Homo sapiens: one gene and its partners. The protein of the gene in region 2 interacts with the protein of the main gene of each other region in a biochemical or structural test. Each region holds a gene or a part of one and is shown on either strand. Other genes may lie near its edges. The genes, in order: TRIM31, RHBDF2 and USP13.

Region 1 (7,105 bases), on a different chromosome or scaffold from region 2:
AAAGTGAAATTAATTTTAATAAAATATTTTAACTCAATATATCTGAAATATTATCCTTTCAGCCTGTAATGAATATTTTAAAAGTATTAATGAGATATTTCACATTCTGGGTTTTTGGTGGTTTTTTTTTTTTTTTTTTTTACACTGAGTCTTTGAAATTGTGTGTATATTTTTCACTTTGGCACATCTCAATTCAGATGCTAAATTGTCAATTGTTAAAGTAAAATATAGTCTTACCAAATCAATAAAGTTGTGTTTAATGGAAAAAGTACTTTACCCTTCTTCTATTTATTTTATTTTATTTTTTGAGATGGAATCTTGCTCTGTTGCCCAGGCTGGAGTACAGTGGCGCGATTTTGGCGCACTACAACTTCCGCCTCCTAGGCCCAAGTCCCAAGTAGCTGGGATTACAGGTCCCCACCACCACGCCCAGCTAATTTTTGTATTCTTAGCAGACACGGGGTTTTACCATGTTGGCCAGGATGGTCTCGAACTCCTGACCTCAAGTGATCTGCCCACCTCAGCCTCCCAAAGTGCTGGGATTACAGGCGTGAACCACCGTGCCTGGCCTCTATTTTTAATTTAAATTTGAATTAGTAAAAATGAAATTAAAAATTCAGTTCTTTGTCACACTAGCCACAATTTCCAATGTTCAGTAGCCACATGTGGTTGGTGGCTACCATATTGGACAGTGCAAGTCTAGCTGGTGCTTAAAATAAGCTGAGATGATTCCTCCTCAAGTCATCTATTCTCCCACAGGTTCAAAAACCTATTTATTTATTTTAAGAAAGATCATGCAAAGCCATTCTAGCCTTTCTCCTGCCCTGGCTAGCAGGCTCCCTTGTTCAGTCTCAGAGCCAAATTCATCTTCTAAATCTCACTCTTCTCTTCTTCACTCAGTTCTTCTTGAGGTCAAAACACTTTTCTGCTTACTGGCAGAGCAGTGCTTCTTGGAGAAGCCCTTCGTGGTGGGGAGAGGGGAGGAGGATGGGGTAAGAGAGACTTGGAGGGGTTCTTACTCCTCCTGCTCTGCCCCACACCCAGCAGGCTCTGTATCTCCTCCTTGGCTCCTGGGAATCAGCCAAGTGCTGAGGCTGTGCTGTTTCTCTTTCTCTTCTAGGATATCAAAGTCGTCTTGTGCAGGTATGATGGGCCACCCCAAATGTATTTTGCCTACTGATTCATCCACACACAATTCTCAGCGTATATCCAAATGCAGTCAACATTCCTCTCTCAGAAATACCCACCCACCTCTAACTCTGCATTCATACATTTAGGCTGCAGCCGGGGAATGCCTATGCCAACCATATTAGCACGTGGTTGGTTGTTAAAGAAACCAGCTGTTTTCTCAGCCTTCCTCCTTCTTCAGCACAGATTCTACTATTTCCTGAATGCCCCCTTGCTCAACTGAATAGCTCCTGGGTCCCCTACTCTGTCTCCCTGACCCTGTTTTTTTCCCTCCTCTCTGTCTCCATCTCCCATCTTCATTTCCATATCTCCCTATGCCCTACCTCACTCCCGCCCCATATCCCTAGCCCTGACTTTCTGACTCCCAGCTCACTATCCCTTAACCGCCAGGTCTTCTTTTTTTTTTTTTTTTTTTTTTTTTGAGATGGAGCTTTGCTCTTGTTGCTCAGGCTGGAGTGCAGTGGTGCAATCTCAGCTCACTGCAACCTTTGTCTCCCAGGTTCAAGTGATTCTCCTGCCTCAGCCTCCCAAGTAGCTGAGACTACAGGCGCTTGCCACCAAGCCTGGCTAATTTTCATATTTTTAGTAGAGACCAGGTTTTACCATGTTGGCCAGGCTAGTCTTGAACTCCTGACCTCAGGTGATCCACCCGCCTCAGCCTCCCAAAGTGCTGGGATTACAGGTGTGAGCCACTGCTCTCAGTTCTACCCCCAGGTCTTCATCCCCTCATTTCTCAACCGCGTATCTCAGATCCTCCTTCTCCCACACCTCATCCCCTGATCTCACCAACCAGCTCAACCACATCTTCCTAGAAGTGAAGAGTTTCAGTTTCTCAACCCAACCCCTGTTCCTCTGGAACTGGAGAAAAAACTCAGTGAAGCAAAATCAAGACATGACTCCATCACAGGGAGCCTAAAAAAATTCAAAGGTAAGGAAGAGGCTGTATTTTCTCTATTCACCTACTTCCAGGAGATTCTCTCCCTGCTCACTCCACTGAAATGGAACTGTGACTCATACATGCCAACAATCCCTGGGCCCTTCTAGTGCCAGGCTTCTGGCTGAGTACTTTCCACGCATCAGTATGCCTCCTCCCAGGCATTTCTTATATTCTGTCTTTGTGATATGTTATTTATCTGCCTCCCTGACTCCTGCGAGAGCCATAGAGGGCCTGGACCTATTCCCCATGTGGACACCTGGCCTAGAGCAGTGGCTGTTGGGAAGTTGGTGATGAGTTGTCTGGTGGACCAGAGATGGCCTCAGGCAGGGACTGTCATCTCTGACTTCTCCTTCTCTGGTGCACACTGGTGTCTCCTCCTGCCTACAGAAGAAGAGAAAATAAATTCAAAATCAGTGACATTCTGGGGAGAAACCTCTTCCAGCCTTACAGGGAAACAGAAATCAGCAGAACAGTAGTGGATGACTTGGGTTTTAGATGTTCGCCAGATATTTTTCATAAACCTTTCTGTGTTTGCAACTAGGAAGAAGGGTTAGTATTTGTAAGGACTCCCCTTAATGTGAAGACTGTGTTGGTCTAAGGTGGGCATAAAGACAGCTAGATGGAATCTTCTGAAATTATCACCTGGAGTTCCACACCCACCTCCCCCACCCCAACCCCCAGCCCCCCATACACAAACACTTCCCCTTGGGACTACGGAAAAGGAGGACCAGGGCAATGCCCCAAGATCTCCACCCATTCAGCCGGGAATCTCCACTCGGCAGACATAAACAGGAAAGCATGTTTTGTTTTATTCTTAATTTTGTTGTCTGAGCTTTTCTTTTGTCCACTAACTGCTCTGCTTTGTCTAGCTCCTCCCACCCCACTGGGCATGATCTCAGCCGATCTAGCAACTTTATTTATTTGTTTATTTATTTATTTATTTTTGATGGAGTTTTGCTCTTATTGCCCAGGATAGAGTGCAGTGGCGCAATCTCGGCTCACTGCAACCTCCGCCTTCTGGTTTCAAGCGATTCTCCTGCCTCAGCTTCCCAAGTCGCTGGTGTTACAGGCGCACACCACCATGCCCAGCTAGTTTTTTGTATTTTTAGTAGAGACGGGGTTTCACCAGGTTGGTCAAGCTGGTCTCGAACTGCTGACTTGTGATCCACCCGCCTCAGCCTCCCAAAGTGCTGGGATTACAGGCGTGAGCCACCACGTCCAGCCCGATCCAGCACCTTTCTAGGCTCTTCAGGTCAAGAATAGTTTGGTTCTAGTTTGGAATTTCAATAAAGGAGCCCAGCCCTTTCCACTTCATCAGGTTTGGAGTTGGGGAGACTGGTGTGCTCTACTCTGTATCCCCCTTTTCTTTCCCTCTTTCACATACACAAACTCACACACACACAGTCCCCCAACTCCCACCTGGCCCTATTTCCTTCTTTTTTTTTTCTCTTATTTTTATTTTATTTTTACCCCAAAGAAGAAGGCACAATGGCCACCTGGCCCTATTAAAGCCTAGGAAATACAGGAGGTGGTAGGGAGTCTACTTATACCACAGGTCCAATCTCCACAGTTCTTATTATGAGGGTTGGTTCTCCCTGCTCGGGGTGACTGGGTCTGGAACACGTACGTGGAGAAGGGTGTGGCTGGGCCCTGAAGCCGCTAAAGGCCCTTGTAGGTGAAGTGCTCCCAGGCAGTGTTTCCTATGCTCTAGGTTTGCAGACCCCTCCTAAGAGGGCCCCCGCGTCTCCCCTGAGCAGTCCCCATGACTGGGCTGGTGGCTCTCAGGGAAGCTACCCACGCTTGTCCCACTACCTAGCCCCAGGCTGTCTTGTGCTGTCTTGGGGCTGCAAGACACTGGGGGAAGGGTGCTGGGGCCAGAAGTAGCTCCCCATCTAGGGGCTCCACCCTATAGTTCTCCACTCAGTCCAGCACCCCTACAGGAAATCTAGGCCAGGAATGGGCCATTGTCCCCAGCTTCTGGGCTCATCCTCTACCTGCAAAAGGAGTCTCTTCTGGCAGGGGTGAACTGGGAGATGAAGGCACTCGGCCTCCCCTTGCAGGAGCTCTGTCTTCGTTCCCCCTCTCAAGCCCTCTTTCATGGGAAAGAGGGCAGGACTGCCATCCAGGCTTTAGGAGAGTGGGGCCCCCCCTTACCCCACCTGGCTCCTGGGTGGTTAGCCCTACAGTAGGCCTTCTGAAGCTAAAGGGTGAAGCCTCAAGGCACTCTTTGTCCTGAGCACCTACCTTTGTCAGGCAGTGAGAAAGGGGCTAGCTCTGCACTGTCCAATTTAGTAGCTGCTAGCCACATGTGCTGACAGGCACTTGAAATGTAGCTAGTCCAAATTTAAACATGCTATATGTGAAGAATCATTAATTTCACAAGATTGAGTGTAAAAAGAGACTGTAAAAGATAGCAATAATTTTTATAATACATGTTGAAATAACATTTTGAGAATATTGAGTTAAATAAAATATATAATTAAAGTTAATTTTACTAGTTTCTTTCTACTTTTTAAATGTGACTACTAGAAAATTTAAAAATATATAAGTGGCTCACATTCGTGACTCAGATTACATTCATCATTCATACTGGACAGTGCTGGGCTAGGCAGTCACCACAGGAAATCAGAAAGGGCATCTCTCAAGGGTTGCATACCTTCCTGGTCCAATAAGAATATGAGAGTCAAATGCAGCTTCTACTTCTCCCAGGCATTTCAAATTAGTGCCTTGCTGTGTGATAGTGAGTTCTTTGCTCAACCCCTCTGGACTCTCACCATTTCATCCCATTCTTTATTCCCCAGACCAACTCCAGGCTGATAGGAAAAAAGATGAAAACAGATTCTTCAAAAGCATGAATAAAAATGACATGAAGAGCTGTAAGTGAGAAATGATGGTTGGTTGCTTCTGCCATTTGGGGAAAGTGAGAAAAGGGGAAGAATTGTGTCTCTATGATTACATGAAGGCCAGATATAAGTGAATGCCGATTCCTCAGCCAATTGAGAGAACAGGCATATGGTTGTTTTATTATTTTAAACTCAGGTAACTCACAAAACAGTCACTAATCCCAAACTTTGAAGTATTCAGAAGTAATAGAAAATTACAAATGTATTTCTTCACTCCTAGAGACAGGGAGGAAAAAGTGGGACAAGAAGGAGGCAGCTCCACCTCTGTAGTATTTGCTGCCCCTACAGGGCAGCAGGTTTCGAGGCAAACTCCTCTGGGTGTGAGGTCAGTACAGCTCAGGGGATGGAGACCCACTGTAATAACAGCCTGTGCTAAAGTCATTAGATATGGTTCTGCCACCTAAGACAATAACAGTAGAAGTACCATTTCTTAAAGGACCACTATGTGCGCATCTAATATTTCAAAACCCCACAACTATCCTCCAAGATAGGTGTTATTATCTGCAACTTACAGTGAGGTCCATGTAGCTTCCGGGAGGGGAGGTAAGTTACCCAGGTCATATGATCATTAAGTGAAAGAGAGAGAATTAGAACTCCTTTCTCCAAAGCCAGAAACTACAGAATGCATTCCAAAGCCAGAGAGCAGGATTTAGGGATCCTATTCCACCAGCATTTCTCCACAAAAGGAGCTACCGGTGTTTAGAAAGGCCATCTTTGTTATGCTCCATGACTTTTGCCCTGTTAAATGCTTAGTATCCCAGGCCCCAGAAAGCCCTATAAGCCAGTAGAGAACCACACTCTTGTTGTCACTGAGACAACCTGAAAGGTTTCCACACTTCCCCCTGGGTGGGGAATGGGTCCCACTGAGAACCATTGACTGTTCTGATTGATGATGGCAGGGTGCTTGTTTTTGTTTTTAATTTGCAGCTTCTGGTTATCAAGACCAAATAGGTTTTCTCTCCCCAATTTTTAGGGGGCTTGTTACAGAAAAATAATCATAAAATGAACAAAACCTCAGAGCCCGGGTCATCTTCTGCAGGTAAGAGTCCTGTCTCTGAATACTAAGGGACCTCTAAGTCTACAGGTGGTCAAAATGCTGTATCCACCCAATTCCACTAAATGGAATAAATGAATAAATGAATGAATTCATTTATTCCATTTCCTCAGTTCCTCCCCAAATTACACCTCTGCCAGGAAACAGAGGGCGCTCCGACTTGTTCAGGTGTACTTTCTTGAGTTTCACCTCCATCCCTCCTGCTGTATGTAGAGCTCAGCTGTGCTGTCTGGCAATGGAGGATTGCTGCCGAGGTGCTCCCGCTGACCTCTTTTCTCCTTTCCTTCTCCCGCAAAGGCGGCAGAACTACATCGGGGCCACCAAATCACCACTCTTCAGCCCCATCCCACTCCCTGTTTCGGGCCTCGTCTGCTGGGAAAGTCACTTTTCCAGTATGTCTCCTGGCCTCTTATGATGAGATTTCTGGTCAAGGAGCGAGCTCTCAGGATACGAAGACATTTGACGTTGCGCTGTCCGAGGAGCTCCATGCGGCACTGAGTGAGTGGCTGACAGCGATCCGGGCTTGGTTTTGTGAGGTTCCTTCAAGCTAAGCCAGCTCAGAGAACACGGGGAGCGGTGGTGCTACACGGACTTCGGAGCATAGAGTGGCGCTGAGTGAGTGGCTGAGACCGACCACGGTTCTTGACTTAGTGGAATTGGGTCGAAGGAGTGGAGAATGGGAGGGCTCGGGCTACTGAGAGTGGAGATGGGGGCGGGGGTGGTGGTGAAGAGAGTTGGAGAAGGAATGGACGAATTCTTGAGCAAAAGGAGGGGAAGAGACAATCTCCAGCCACCCGCCCCACGCTTGACTTCTTATCACTTTGGCTGTGGTGCCGCCTAGTGGAAAAAGGAAGTCCCTGCAGCAGTCCCCGCACTCTTTAAGCAGCTGTTTACCGAAGGCACCAGTTCAGCCAGGAGTGAAATCCGGAGAGGAGCAACGCCAGCCTGGGTCACAGTCCATCAAACCCCATGAGCCCGACCACTCTCGCTCTTCCTTACATTCCCACGTCCCCCTTCTCTCCC
Region 2 (7,105 bases):
GCCGCTTCCCACCCTTAGCCCCTAGGGTGGGGGAGAGTGGGGAGCAGCAGGATGGGGCAGAGGCGGGAGGCCTGTGCTGTAGAGGCAGCTTGGGGCAGGGAAGCTGGTGCAGGGCCCTCTGCCCATGGTAATCAAGTGGTCATACCCGGTGCCTCACTGGCCATCCTCAGTGTGGTGGGTGAGGCACTGGCACAGGGAGTGGACTCGTCCCCGGGTGGGGTGACAGGTCCCCTCAGTGCCATCCCCATCAGGGCAGGCCACCCTGGGCCCAGGCAGCCCCTTCCCTGCTCTGGAGCCAAGGCAGAACAGGTAGGGGTGGGAACCCCAGGGCCCTAAGGATTCAACCCAGCCCTCCCAAGTGGACCCCTGGGGTCTCCCACGTGACCCCAATCTGCTTTCTGGCCCAACTAATTCCCCAAGATGCTCCACAAGTTTTCTGCTGTCCACCGGGCCAAACTGCTGTCTCTGAGCAGCTGATGGCTGACCCCTCACCTCACCCCCAAATCCCAGTTTCATGCTACCTGAGGTCTCCGTTAAAGACAATGTACTGCCATAAAGAATATTATTTAATCCATGAGACATCGTCCGTACAAAGTTAGCGTTACTTTTAAAAATGAAGACCGTGATATAAACTGGTAAAAAACGGGCCTGATGCGCCTCGAGCACTCCCTGGGAGCAGGCCCTGGGGTGGCTCCGCCCAGTGTCGTTCTACCTGAGGTCTACTTGTGTCTCCCCCCTTGTTCTCTGCCCCCAGACCATGGCCAAAGCCTTTCCCACAATGTCCCATCTGAGAGCCTTATGGATGGGCTCACAGGGCAGAGGTAGGAGGAGAAAGAGGAAGGGGCATGGTGGGCACCCAGCCCTGGGGGCAACTGAGGGCACAGCCACGTCCCCAGCAAGGGCACGCTCCAGTAGTAGTGGGGGAGAAGGCACCAGCAGAGGCAGCGCTGAGGACCTGGGAAGAAAAGGACCCTGCCCCAGGAGATGGTCTCAGCAAGGAGCGGGATATTAGGAACTGAGACCCAAGACTCAGAGAGGCAGGTGCCTTGGGTGTGCCTGAGCTTGGGTCAGGATCTCACAGGCCTCACGCCCCAGAAAAACCCCGCCTTAACCAACCATCTCACGCGGAGTCAGCCTCGCCTGGCAGGGGGGCACCCAGGTCCAGAGCCCGGGCCCTGTCTTGGGTCTCTGGCTCTCTGGCACACAGAGAGCGCTCTGCAGAGGGCAGCCCTCGCAGGCAGACCCTGTTCCAGCAGGGCTGAGGGGCAGCCGTGTGGCCCAGCGGTCAGTGCAGCACCTGGTCCAGCTCATACTTCTCGCAGAAGCGGCTGGTGAAGGGGAAGCAGGTGAGGTGCTCGATCCAGGGCCAGTTAATGGGGTAGATGTACAGCCACAGCACGAGGGCGGCGAAGAGGCCGGCAAAGGCCAGCAGTGACACCAGGATGAGTGCCCGCTTGCGGTACTTGTCGCTGGTGCCGAAGGTGATGTAGGGCAGGAAGGCGAAGGCCAGCAGCAGGCCACTGAGGAAGCCGAAGATGTGGGCGATGTTGTCGATCCAGGGCAGGAGGCCACAGATGAACAGGAAGAGCACGATGGCCGAGAGGTTGAGGAAGGCCTTCCAGGGCCTCTCCAGCAGCGGCCAGCTCTGGAAGAGCTCCACGAAGAGGCAGGCGAGGAGGCCGAACTGTGAGCCGGCCGGGCCCACCTGGGGCGGGGCAGGGGAGACGTGGCTTCAGGCATCAGGTGGGTGGCCTGGGCCGGGCCTGCACCCTGGGTCATCCCATCGATCAGCTCCTCCCTGGCAGGCATGGGGACCCCTGAGGCTGAGGGGCAGGGGGTCGGCTGGAGCTGCTGGACCAAAGCTGGGCCTGCTCCGCCCATTCTTTCAGCAAACACTGAGCGCCTACTGTGTACGTGCCTGGTGTGGGTCCGTAGCAATAAGCAAGACAGACAAGCCTGTTCCAGGCCGCACACGGTGGGGAGAGGACGGACACTGAACAAACTAGATCAGTCAGGTGGAACTGATCAGACTGCCGACGGCGCACGGAGGCCATTTCCTACCGCTCGACCTGCAGATACCTAGCATACTGTCAGGCAGTGGGCACGGTTAGGAAGATAAATGAGGCGGTGGAGGGACAGGGTGACTCAAGAGCATCACTGTTCCCTCTCACTGGGATTAAGAGACCAGCCAGTAAGCCCCCAGATTAGCTGTCCCTCCGCTGTGGAGCCCAGTACAGGAGGGGCACCGTGTCCCTCTGGCAGATCCCAGGTGGGTGGAATAGGAGCAGCAGGGCTGGCCCCCTATGTGCGGAAGGGGTCCCATCCTCCACATCCTTACCTCTGCCCGGTATGGGAGAAAGATGGCACTGGCGAGGTTGCCTGTGATGCCACTGAGGATGAAGATGATGGCGATACGGTGCCAGCCGGCCAGCTTCTCCAGGTCCCTCAGGATGGTCATTTGAAAGACCACAGACACGAGGCAGTGCACCACGCTGGGGGAGGGACACACCAGGCAGCGGCCTTCAGCCAGGCACTTCAGGAGCAGTAGGCTTCGGCAGGTTGGGCCGGCCATGCCCTGGCCCAGGAACCTTTCCCCAGGGGTCCGGCTGGGTGGCCATCACAGGGGTCGGGTTCGGGGGCAGTGAGGAGCCTCTTACCCAGCATGTAGGAAGAGAGACAGCCAGAGCCTGTAGAACTGATCTGGGACCTCAGGGTTGAGGAAGGGCAGCAGCCCACACACCTTGTCCAAGCAGTGCACCTGGGAGTGGGCATATGGTGCTCAGCGCCCCAGAAGCAGGCTGAGTCTGAGGCTCCGACATGGGAGGGAGTGCGTGAGCCCCGGCCCCAGCAGGCTGCCATGCCCAGCGTCCTCTCCTCCACTACTCCAGGCCTGCCTCGCCTCACCTGGGAGCAGAGTGTTGCTTCCTCATGGAAATAGCCGTGCATGAACTCACAGTATTCCCGGGTGGTGATCTCACAGCTAAGGGGGTGGTGAGGCAAGAGGGGACATCAGGGCGCCGAATAACCACTGCCCACCTTTGCCCAGAGCCCAGCACCTGGCTACAGGAGGCATCGCTGGCAGGAAGGGGGATGCCGCATCCAGAACCTTCGACTCTGGAGCAAGCTTCCTTCCTCCAGCTCGCACCATGGGTAGCCCCAGAGCAGGGGAGCAAAGGACAGTTATTGGAGGGCATCGGCCCAGCGGCTGTGGGTGGTGACGGTGGAGGAGCAGAGGGCCCACAGGAAGCCGCAGCTCGGGGGGGCAGTGGGATGGCTGAGGCCAGGGCCCAGGTCGCTCACCTGCCCTTGGTGCCGATGCAGCAGGGGCGGCCCTTGATCTCGCAGTCCATGTGCAGGAAGCCTGTGTGGTTGCTCCTGGCCTGCTCTGTGCAGATCTGCCAGGAGGGGGCACCGGCAGGGAAGTGGGCTGTGCAGCAGGCAGGTCCCCCATCCCTGACCTTCCCAGACCACTCCCCGCCAGGGACACTCACCGGCCACTTAGTGATGTCATCGGGCCAGATGTGGGCACCGCTGGAGGCTGGCTCCTCGCAGGTCCTGGAGACAGGGTTCAGATTGGGCTGTGGCACACCCAGCGTGCCACGTCCACCTACCCACGTCCCTGTGGGTGGCTCAGATGGCATGGCTATGCCTGACCCTGAGGCCCAGCAGAGGCTCCAGGCCCTACCTGGGGTCCTGGTGGCAGACAGCCCCCGAAGTCCGCTTCTGGCCCAGATCAGACTTGTCCATGGGGGGCCCAGTGTCATCCTGCCACTTGACAAAAGTGGCCAAAGTCTCCTGGAGGGCAGAAGAAGGCTGGTGGGTCATGTCGGGGCCAGGTCACCCCCACTGGAGTGGGCAAGGACAGAGGCTTTTCCCATCTCCCCAGGGCTCAGTCTCATCTATGGGGGTCTGGGAAAGGTGGGGCGGGGAGGAGGGAACGTGGTCACTGCCCTTGAAGGACAGGGCAAGTGGAGCTAGTCCGGGACCAGGGTCTGGCAGGGGTAGGAGGGAGGGCCTGCCCCCACCGAGCAGTCCTTCCGCTGGGTCTGGATGCATCCGGAGTGGTCATTCTGGACACAGCAGCCTGAGTCCCGCTCCAGGTCTCGCTCGCGCAGCACCAGCTGCTCGATCTGCCCGTCCTTCCGGATGCAGGGTGAGAACTTGGCCCCCAGGTGGATCAGGTCAATCTGGGGAAGGGAAAGGGAGGGGAGAGAGTGAGTTTGAGCCCCAGACCTGGGAGGGGTCCATCACTCCACCTCTGCCCCGCAGAGTCTCCCCTGATGAGGGGCCTGCGGGTGGGTGAGGAGCCCACCTGCCCAGCTGGGAGTGACAGGGCACAGGGACTCCTGGCTCAGATGATGTCCCCCAGCCTGGGCCCTCACCGAGCTGGGGCCAACCCAGAAGTTCTCCTGCTGGATGTACTTCACGCTCTCGTACACACCTTTGTTCCGCAGCACCTATCGTGGAGGTAGCACAGAGGAGGGCGTCAGAACAGTGTGGGCCCTGGGCATGGGGAGCTGGGGCAGCTGTCCCCAGGATAGAGCCTCCAGGAAGGGGCCAGGCTATGGTGAGCACCACCCTGCTGGGGCCAGATTGTTGCGGTGGGAGGGATTAGGTACCCACGACACTGAGGCCTCCTAGGAGAGGCTGGGACCCCCAGCATGGAGCCTGACCCGACTCACCAGCTGGGTGGTGACGTGCTGGGCAAAGCCCACGGGTGCGATGCCATACGTGCAAATCACCAGCAGCGTGATGATGACATGGACGAAGGTCAGCCAGTAGGTGAAGTAGGGCCTGTGCAGAGACACCTCGGGTCAGCTGAGCCGAGCTCCTATCCCAACCCCCAGTCCCGGCCACAGGGCCACCCTGGCCTGGTCACATGGCTCGCCTGGGCTCCCTGTTCTGCCCCGTCAACTCATCTCAAACCAGAGGAACTTTTAAGACGAGCCTCCAAGCATCTCTCTCCTAGCTTAAAACCTTTTGATAGCTTTCCACTGGCCTTGGGACAAATTCCAGAATCACCCCCTCTTGCTGGCTGCAAAGCTTTGCCTGACCGACCACCTCTCTGGCCTCTTTGCCTGCATTTCCTGGGATGTACTTTGCCCTTCCAGCCCCAGGGCCTTTGCACATGACATCACAGTTTGTCCTGACTGCACCCCTCCCCACCAGCTGTTCACTCTCCCTCTCTATCCTCCTCCGGGACACCCACCACACCTATCATTGCTTGTTCTTTTCTTTTCTTTTTTTTTTTTTGAGACAGAGTCTCGCTCTGTCACCTAGGCTGGAATGCAGTTGTGCGATCTCAGCTCACTGCAACCTTCGCCCCCAGGTTCAAGCGATTCTCCTGCCTCAGCCTCCCTCGTAGCTGGGATTACAAGCACCCACCATACCTGCCTAATTTTGTTTGTCTTTTTAGTAGAGACCAGTTTTCACTGTGTTGGCCAGGCTGGTCTCGAACTCCTGACCTCAGGTGATCTGCCCACCTAGGCCTCCCGAAGTGCTGGGATTACAGGTGTGAGCCACCGGGCCTGGCCATTGCTTGTTATTTTCTTTTTCTTTTCTTTCTTTTTTTTTTGAGATGGAATTTCGCTCTTGTTGCCCAGGCTGGAGTACAATGGTGCGATCCTGGCTCACTGCAACCTCTGCCTCCCAGGTTCAAGTGATTCTCCTGCCTCAAGCCTCCCGAGTAGCTGGGATTACAGGCATGCACCACCACGCCCGGCTAATTTTTTGTATTTTTAGTAGAGATGGGGTTTCACCATGTTGGCCAGGCTGGTCTTGAACTCCTGACCTCAGGTGATCCGCCTGCCTCGGCCTCAGAAAGTGCTGGAATTACAGGCGTGAGCCACCGCGCCCTGCCTGCTTGTTATTTTCTAATTTGGGCCCAGTGTTTATTGGGCTGCTGCAAATCAGATGCCCTGTTCTTCCCCAAGGGCTCTGCATAGCCTCTCCCAGAGTCCCCTCCCTCCCAGCCCCAGCTTCTTCTTTTAAAGTAGAGGTAGGGTCTCACTATGTTGCCCAGGCTGGTCTCAAACTCCTAGGCTCAAGCAATCCTTCTGACTCAGCCTCCCAAAGTGCTATAATTACAAGTGTGAGCCACGGCGCCCAGCCCTGGCCCCAGCTTCTAACTGTCCTCTGACCGACCCTGCCCTCCCTGCTCCACCCTCTGGGGGTTCCATTTTAGGGCCTGCAGGCAGTGACACTCAATGAACATTTGTTGACTGACTGCTGTCTGGGAGCAAGGCTGGGGACCAGGCTCAGAAAGCATGGGGTGGAAGAGAGGCAGCAAGCACCCCTGGCCCTTCCCAGGTCATGTGCACAACCCTTGGGACAGGGTGCGCCTTCGAGCTTGTCACTACACTCCTGATCCGCAGAAGATGCTCATGAAACACTTGCTGAATGAGTAAGGGGGCGCTTCAGGAGGGCCCAGAGGAATTTGGAACCTTCCAGGCTCTCCTGGGGGCTCCAGGGCGACACCTCACCGGTGGCTGTCGAAGCTCTCCAGCTGCCGCTGCACAGTGCTGCTGATGCTGCGGCGGTAGCTGCGGTTCAGCCAGTTGCCCACCACGCCGAGGCCGTAGTGCCGCTTCTTCCGATCAAAGGCAAAGTGCTTCACCTTGGAGGCGATGCGCTTGCCGCGCCGGGGCCCGGGGACTGGGGCTCGGCCATACTCCTTCCTGGTGGGGATGGTGGCTTTCAGCCTGAATCCCCCACCAAAATACTCCCAGACCCCACCAGGGTGCTCAGAAGGGGCTTGGGGGCCAGGGTGAGGTCTGGGGATGCCCCCAGGCTGGTGGCTGGCCTGGAGGAGGGACTCTGCCCCAGCACTCACAGAGGGATTTGCACCCCATCGGGGGAGACAGGGGAGGCTGAGTGTGGGATCCCTCGGAAGTAGCTGGCAGAGAGTGGGGGGGACTCAAAGACATCATCAGGCATGGAGCTCATTTCTTCCTGGGGTGGGGGACAAGAAAATACAGTGTAAGGAGTCTGTCCCAAACACTGCCCCCCGGAACCTCAATTCAAGGGCAGGACACAGCTGAACAGACGGGCTCTTCACAATGAATTGGGAAGCCACATGCCCGTCAGCCCCAATGGTGACTTTCCC
Region 3 (7,105 bases), on a different chromosome or scaffold from region 2:
GTGATGGGCAACTGATACCTGAATGAACTACTATTAATCTCCCTTGGATAGGGAGCTTTTTAAAAATAATTTTAACAAATATGGCTTGTTTTTCCTTTTTGAAATAAATTGTTTTTGCTTTCCTGTTTTTAACATATGAACTCTACAATCTGAAACATAGCAGAAGCCTGAGGGAGGGGTTTCACAGAGAACAAATAATATAGGTTGAGGCCGGACATGGTGGTTCATGCCTGTAATCCCAGCACTTTGGGAGGCTGAGGAGGGCAGATCACCTGAGGTCAGGAGTTCCAGATCAGCCTGGCTAAATAGTGAAACCCTGTCTCCACTAAAAAAACAAAAATTGGCTGGGTGCGGTGGCTCATGCCTGTAATCCAGCACTTTGGGAGGCCAAGGAGGGAGGATCACCTGAGGTTGGGAGTTCGAGACCAGCCTGACCAACATGGAGAAACCCCATCTCTACTAAAAATACAAAACTAGCCGGGCATGGTGGCACAGGCCTGTAATCCCAGCTACTCGGGAAGCTGAGGCAGGAGAATCACTTGAACCTGGGAGGCGTAGGTTGTGGCAAGCAGAGATTGTGCCACTGCACTCCAGCCTGGGCAACAAAAGCAAAACTCCGTCTCAAAAAAAAACAAAAAAAAATATACAAAAATTAGCCGGGCTTGGTGGCATGTGCCTGCATTCCCAGCTACTCAGGAGGCTGAAACAGGAGAATTGCTTGAACTTGGGAGGCAGAGGTTGCAGTGAGCCAAGATCATGCCACTGCACTCCAGCCTGGGTGACAGAGCGAGACTCCCTCTAAAAAATATATATAATACTTATATATATTATATGTATATATATAAAATTTTATATATATACATTTTATATATAAAATTTTATATATATATATATAGGTTGAACTGCTATTGAGGCCATGGTAAAAACAGCCCACACCAGCCGTTCCATCCTTTAATCCCCTTTATGTTAGCCAAAATCTCAATCTTAGCCTCAAAGAAAAATGGCCAAAGAATATCTGAACGTAGCAAAACTCCTGGAGCCAAACTTTCAGACCTCCCTTTGTTTTATGCCACTGCAAGCACTCTTTTTCCAATTAAGTGCAGTGATATGAAGTGTGTTGGCAAGGACTCGACTGCATCAAATCAACTAGGGTGGCAGACGGAGAAAAAAAAACTTTTATGTGTCTGACAACCAGCCTCACAATGTGAAAACAAGACATCTGACTAAACCCTGAGCGGCTCGTTTCAACAATGCTCAGGAGACTTCCTGTCCACTTTGAGATGTCCTGAGACTCCTAGTCTCCAAGGAGAAACATAGCCAACCAAGTTCTAGACTAAGTCTTTAATTATGGAGTTAAAATATAGCACAATGGAGTTTAAATATGGAGGCCTGTCTTCAGCATTTTTGTAATTTCTTCATGAATAATGTCATTCTTGCCATTTGCGGGTAGGGGATTGTTTCTTGGCTGTATCCTCTTGGTAAGAGAGGGGCTGGGGGTGGGGTCAAGGTTGGGAGGAAGGGAAGGAGGAAGGAAGGAAGGAAGAAAGGAAGAAAGAAAGGAAGGAAGGAAGGAAGGAAGGCTCCTAATAGAGAATAAATCACAACCTTACATTTAAAAAAAGAAAAAAGAAAACCCCTCCTTAGCACGTAATATAAATCACAGGCCTGTTTTATTGGACAGGTCTCACACAAGTGAAGTTTGACGACAGTTAGGGTGTGTGAACCATAATCCCATCCATCACACATGAACAAACACACACAGACACAAATAACACCCACCCCCTTTCCCTTACCCCTGTCCCCACCCCTCAAGGCCCCTCCTCACCCCACTGCCACCACATATACACACACTTACTTCACACCCGCAGACTTTGCTTGTAGGGCACTGCTCCAGAAATCATCAACATTTTCTGGTTCAGAGAAGGCCTGAAGGCAGGCACTAAATGGTATCTTGGCACGTACCAACTCAGGAAGGGGTCTTCTGTTTGCTTCTGCTTCCCTTCTCGTTAGTTCATAAGCGATCAGTTCATCTGGGTGAAAGAGCAAATCAAAGACCTTGCAATCGCTCTTACCCTGTGGAAATGAAAAGCACCCTCTTTGGACAGTCTTCCCTGAAGGCTTCTGCGCTGGGCCAGAGTTGCTTATTTGTCGCCCTTTACAGAGCCAGATGCCCCTGCTGAAAGGCTGTTCTGGGGCTGTCTTTAGAGTTGCACCAACAGGTGGTATCAAGCCATTTACATCTTTTTGCATGCTCCCCTTTGCGACTGACAGGAGGGAAGTGTGAGCTTGGCCTGGCCTGGGTGGGTGAGAGGGCCAGACCATGTGTGTGATATAAATGCCCATGAACCTGGTTTGTCCAAAGGCCAATACTGGGATTATTCAAATGCCATCCTCCCAACACAAGGCCTTCGCATCAGAGTATTTCACAGCCAGAAAAGGTCCAAGGGCTCACGTCTTCCCAGTCCTTCACTGCCTTGCTGAAGAACTGAGGCCCAAAGTCAAAACCAGCCAATTATTGGCAAAGCTGGACTTAAAACTCTGATCAGCACTCCCTCCACAACCCAACAGATAAGGCCAGAAAGAGATGTTACATTGTGTAAGGGGATCAATTTTTGCCAATGATCACACACACATACACAAAAGTAACAAAAACATTCTTGTTAACTTTAAGCTGTTTTAAAATAAAATAACCAAAGGCAGAAAAAAACAAAACAAAACAAAAAAAAAAACAGAACCACCACTAAGCGCCTGGCAAGAGCCAGATCGAGTGTTACACATTTTCTGATTTGGTTCCACCAGCAACTATGATTAGAGGTCATGGGTCCCACATGGGTCCCTGTGAGGCCAAGGAGGAGGATAACTACAGGACTGCAGTTAGCCACCATCAAACAACCCATGACAGTAACCAACACTGCCGAGACAACTTCCTGTGGAGGTTACCCAACACCTCAGACATCAGGGCTACCAACCCAGAAGGCCTCTGTGCTATTCCTACTCAAATGATTAAATACTAAGGGAAAAAGAGGAACCTCCCAAGCACCAGCAGATCTGGTCCTGGAAACTAGCCTGTAGTCAAAATTTTATGTCAATTTGAATGGCCTTTCTGGTCATTTCTTTTGTATTACTCAAAAAAAAAAAAAAAAAAACTCCTTATTTATCAGTTTGTAGGTACACTTACGCACATATGTGTTTTCCTAAACACATCTTAGATGGTTTAAAATTCATTCCCCTGTCCCCAATCAGTTTATGATGTACTTATATCTAGGTTGCTAACATTAGGTGTTCCCAACAGTCAAATTCCAGAGACTAAATTATAAATCTCCTTTCTGAAAAAAAAAAGTAGTTATCACTAATAAATGATAAACAGAGTTAAAAAAAGATCATGGACATGAGCAGACACGTGAGTCAGTAACCCTGAGGCGGACAAGAGAAACCACTGCAGCCTAGTTCTAACAAGGAAACAAACAGCAGACTCCCATTCCCTTGTTTCTACACCAAAAGGATTTTGAAACTGATCAAAAACTGCATGAGCATATAGAAAATGAAAATCGTTTCATCTTAAATCATCATAATCATCACTTTCCAACTAACATCATAAACTGACCCACCACCCCCCACACACAAGAAAGAGCAAAAAGGGCCATCCAGGGAACCGCTGAATTTTTTTTTCTTTATTCTCAAAAAAAAAAACAAAAAACAAAAAAACTCCAGGATACATGTGTAGAACGTGCAGGTCTGTTACATAAGTATATGTGTGCCGTGGCGGTTTGCTGCACCTACTGACCTGTCCTCTAAGTTCTCTCCCCTTTCCCCCCACCCACCAACAGGCCTCAGTGTGTGATGTTCCCCTCCCTGTGTCCATATGTTCTCAATGTTCAACTCGCACTTATGAGTGAGAATATGCGGTGTTTGGTTTCTGTTCCTGTGTTAGTTTGCTGAGGATGAGGGCTTCCAGCTTCATCCATGTGCAAAGGACATGATCTCATTCCTTTTCATGGCTGCATAGTGGAATTGCTGAACTTTACAAAAATGACTAGTTCACAGGAGATGCACAATCCAGCAGCTATTTTGTCTTTTTTGCTTCTACGATGTTAATTCGAAGAAATGCCATTTGTCTATTCTGCCTAGGAAGAACCAGCTTAGACTGATGGAAGGAGAAGGCACCAAACATGAGTGCCACATCTCTGCCTCCTTCTCTCTTCCAAAGCCCAGAGACCCTTCTAATGGGCTTTGCTTCTACAAAGAACCCTGACACAATTTATCTCCCAGAAGAGGTGGCTCAAATACTCATGTGCCAAAGCTGGATTATTTCAAGAGACCTCTGCTCGAATGTCTAACTTTAAAAAATGCAGTCCTGATCATTTCCCTCAGACTTTATAGCACAACTTATAAATGACAGTGTTAAAGAATTTTCTACATACATCATTACCAATAATTTTCCCCAAAATTATGCTGACTCCATATTCAGTAGTTGGCCAAATTTATAGGCAGTGACGTAGGTTCCAACCATAACGCCTCCATAAAACCTGTGATGCATTTGATTCTTCTCAAAGGAAAAGTCACATGGGAACTAACAAAGAGATGAAAAGAGATGTGCAAAGCAGACATCACCTGGGCTGGGTCTACTCCTGACACACTTCAGTGACTAAACCATTCTCTCTGATTTGAGGGTTTTCCCATATGAAGACACACAGTACCAATTTCCCGCTTTGGAATTGTTACCCTTGTTGGTTGCCGCCTCCATGGCCACAGGTAACTGCATCAGGTAATCCACCCTCTCCGTGTAGCGGACTTTCCGGGTCTGACAGCACTGAATGCGTTCTTCCACCAAAAAACGAAAAACATCGCTTGGGTTTTCTGAGCCGATGCGGTTCCTCTGAAGGATGGATTGTATCAGGTTAGTAAATGTATGAATATTGAGCCACTAAGACTTAGTAGAAAATGAACTCTAAACCCGGTGTAAACACTTGGCTTTATTAAACATTTCCTCTGGCCATGCCCATTCACCAAAGCACTTTAATAGAAAAACACTGGAATTTATCTAAAGTCCAAAAATGGGGATTGGTAAAATAAAATATAGTTCATCATGGATTACTATTTCAATATTATTAAATTAAAAACCATGGGAGAGAAATTCATGGAATGAGAAGAAAGGAGGAGGAGAAGCCAATCAAAAGAGAAAGGGAAAAAAATAAAGGGCTGCCCTGGAAACATAAAAACATGTACAATATGATTATATAAATACACTCATGTAAATTAGGTACAAATAAAACAGAAATTATGCTCTGTTAACAGATGTGATGATGTGGCAAACATTTAAGTGAAAACACTGCTTACAGAAGAGCATGTAGAGAATTAACATAAGACCTGGAAAGTGATGGGAGGGGCAGATGCCAACCTGTGAACACTGGCTGTTGGCCGGGCACAGTGGCTCATGCCTGTAATCCCAGCACTTTGGGAGGCGGAGGCGGGTGGATCATCTGAGGTCAGGAGTTCGAGACCAGCCTGGCCAACATGGTGAAACCCCGTCTCTACTAAAAATACAAAAAAATTAGCCAGGCATGGTAGTGGGTGCCTATAATCCCAGCTACTCGGGAGGCTTTATTCTAAAAAAAAAAAGTTATCACTAATAAATGATAAACAGAGTTAGAAAAGATCATGGACCTGAGCAGACATGTGAATCAGTAACCCTGAGGCAGACAAGAGAAACCACTGCAGCCTAGTTCTAACAAGGAAACAAACAACAGAAGAATCACTTGAACCTGCAAGGCGGAGGTTGCAGTGGGCCAAGATCGTGCCACTGCACTCCAGCCTGGGCGACAAGAGCAAGACTCTGTCAAAAACAAACAAACAAAAACAAACAAACAAACAAACAAACAAAAAACACTGGCTGGCTGCAGGGCGTGGCATTAAGGGGGATTTTGATGTTCTCCTTTGTGTTTTCTATATTTTCCACAAAGAACACTGTTGTAACCAGGAAAAAAAAAAAAGGCTTTACTCAGGAATTCTCAGTGGCTTTCCAGCTCACACCTGTAATCCCAGCACTTTGGGAGGCCGAGGCGGGTGGATCACAAGGTCAGGAGTTCAAAACCAGCCTGACCAACATGGTGAAACCCCATCTCTACTAAAAATACAAAAATTAGCCGGGCGTGGTGGCAGGCTCCTATAATCCCAGCTACTCAGGAGGCTGAGGCAGTAGAATTGCTTGAACCCAGGAGGCAGAGGTTGCAGTGAGCCAAGATTGTGCCACTGCACTCTAGCCTGGGCAACAGAGCTAGACTCAGTCTCAAAAAAAAAAAAAAAGTTTTTAATGGCATTCGATTCTGATGTAAGCAGACTCATCATCTTTGAGCAGTGGCAGGAGGACACCAAATACCACGCAGGGCTCTTAAGGAACTTTGTCACAAAGACCAGAAAAAAATAAATTGTGAATGGAATAACTGGCAAGCACTCCTATAACACATACAGGTTAAAAGAAGCACAGAGATCCACAAGTGTCTGGAAACTGGAGTGTGAAGAGCAGTCACATCAAGTTGGCTGAGCAGAGAGTTTCCAGGGATCTGATTCTGAACCAGCTTTAACAGGAGAGATTGAAGAAAGAGAGTGGGGAGGCATTCTGATCAAGCCACAGCAGACTGCACTGAGTGGCTCGGCACCCTCTTACAACCCCGCTGAGCATCCGTGAAGACTGACTACTCACCTCTACTAGATTCACCAGGTGCAAGAAGAATTCCTGGGCATCTTGCTGCCTGTTAGAGGAGAATTCCGGGTGGCTCTTGCTTACAAAGGCCTTAAACATGCGCGGAGAGATCCCGTTCTGCTGTGGCTAATGTATAAAAATGAAATGGACTTATGATACTTTCATGCAAATTAACAGCCCTAAGCGGCAAGCAGAGCAGAACCCACCATAAACTCCACTTTCCAGATGAGAAAACTACAGCCCAAAGAAGGTAAATAATGATAGTGGCCAATACTCGCTGGGTGTTTACTATGTGCCAGGCCCTGCACTATGAACCTTATGAAGAACACAGGATGAGACTCTTCCTGTTTACTTAAAACTAGGACAATAGGTGACACACACTTTAGAAAGTACTCACTTTCTAAA

Evidence for each region.
Region 1: the proteins of RHBDF2 (region 2) and TRIM31 form a complex in vitro, tested with the Homo sapiens proteins (one study listed by BioGRID).
Region 3: the proteins of RHBDF2 (region 2) and USP13 form a complex in vitro, tested with the Homo sapiens proteins (one study listed by BioGRID).

The regions. Positions count from the first base shown.
Region 1 is NC_000006.12:30,103,064-30,110,168, reverse strand, and holds part of TRIM31 (E3 ubiquitin-protein ligase TRIM31), read left to right. Parts: intron 1-1,120; coding exon 1,121-1,143; intron 1,144-1,981; coding exon of another isoform or gene 1,982-2,000; coding exon 2,001-2,116; intron 2,117-2,381; exon of another isoform or gene 2,382-2,506; intron 2,507-4,781; exon of another isoform or gene 4,782-4,926; coding exon 4,927-5,001; intron 5,002-6,001; coding exon 6,002-6,067; intron 6,068-6,379; coding exon 6,380-6,633; 3' UTR 6,634-6,923; coding exon of another isoform or gene 6,924-6,964; 3' UTR 6,965-7,105.
Region 2 is NC_000017.11:76,470,348-76,477,452, forward strand, and holds the end of RHBDF2 (inactive rhomboid protein 2), read right to left. Parts: intron 6,952-7,105; coding exon 6,833-6,951; intron 6,678-6,832; coding exon 6,483-6,677; intron 4,795-6,482; coding exon 4,683-4,794; intron 4,458-4,682; coding exon 4,383-4,457; coding exon of another isoform or gene 4,313-4,382; intron 4,188-4,312; coding exon 4,026-4,187; intron 3,796-4,025; coding exon 3,686-3,795; intron 3,556-3,685; coding exon 3,492-3,555; intron 3,396-3,491; coding exon 3,301-3,395; intron 2,981-3,300; coding exon 2,905-2,980; intron 2,759-2,904; coding exon 2,658-2,758; intron 2,493-2,657; coding exon 2,339-2,492; intron 1,706-2,338; coding exon 1,286-1,705; 3' UTR 549-1,285; downstream 1-548. UniProt on the Homo sapiens protein: Regulates ADAM17 protease, a sheddase of the epidermal growth factor (EGF) receptor ligands and TNF, thereby plays a role in sleep, cell survival, proliferation, migration and inflammation. Does not exhibit any protease activity on its own.
Region 3 is NC_000003.12:179,739,968-179,747,072, reverse strand, and holds part of USP13 (ubiquitin carboxyl-terminal hydrolase 13), read right to left. Parts: intron 6,827-7,105; coding exon 6,701-6,826; intron 4,877-6,700; coding exon 4,723-4,876; intron 2,031-4,722; coding exon 1,856-2,030; intron 1-1,855. UniProt on the Homo sapiens protein: Deubiquitinase that mediates deubiquitination of target proteins such as BECN1, MITF, SKP2 and USP10 and is involved in various processes such as autophagy, endoplasmic reticulum-associated degradation (ERAD), cell cycle progression or DNA damage response.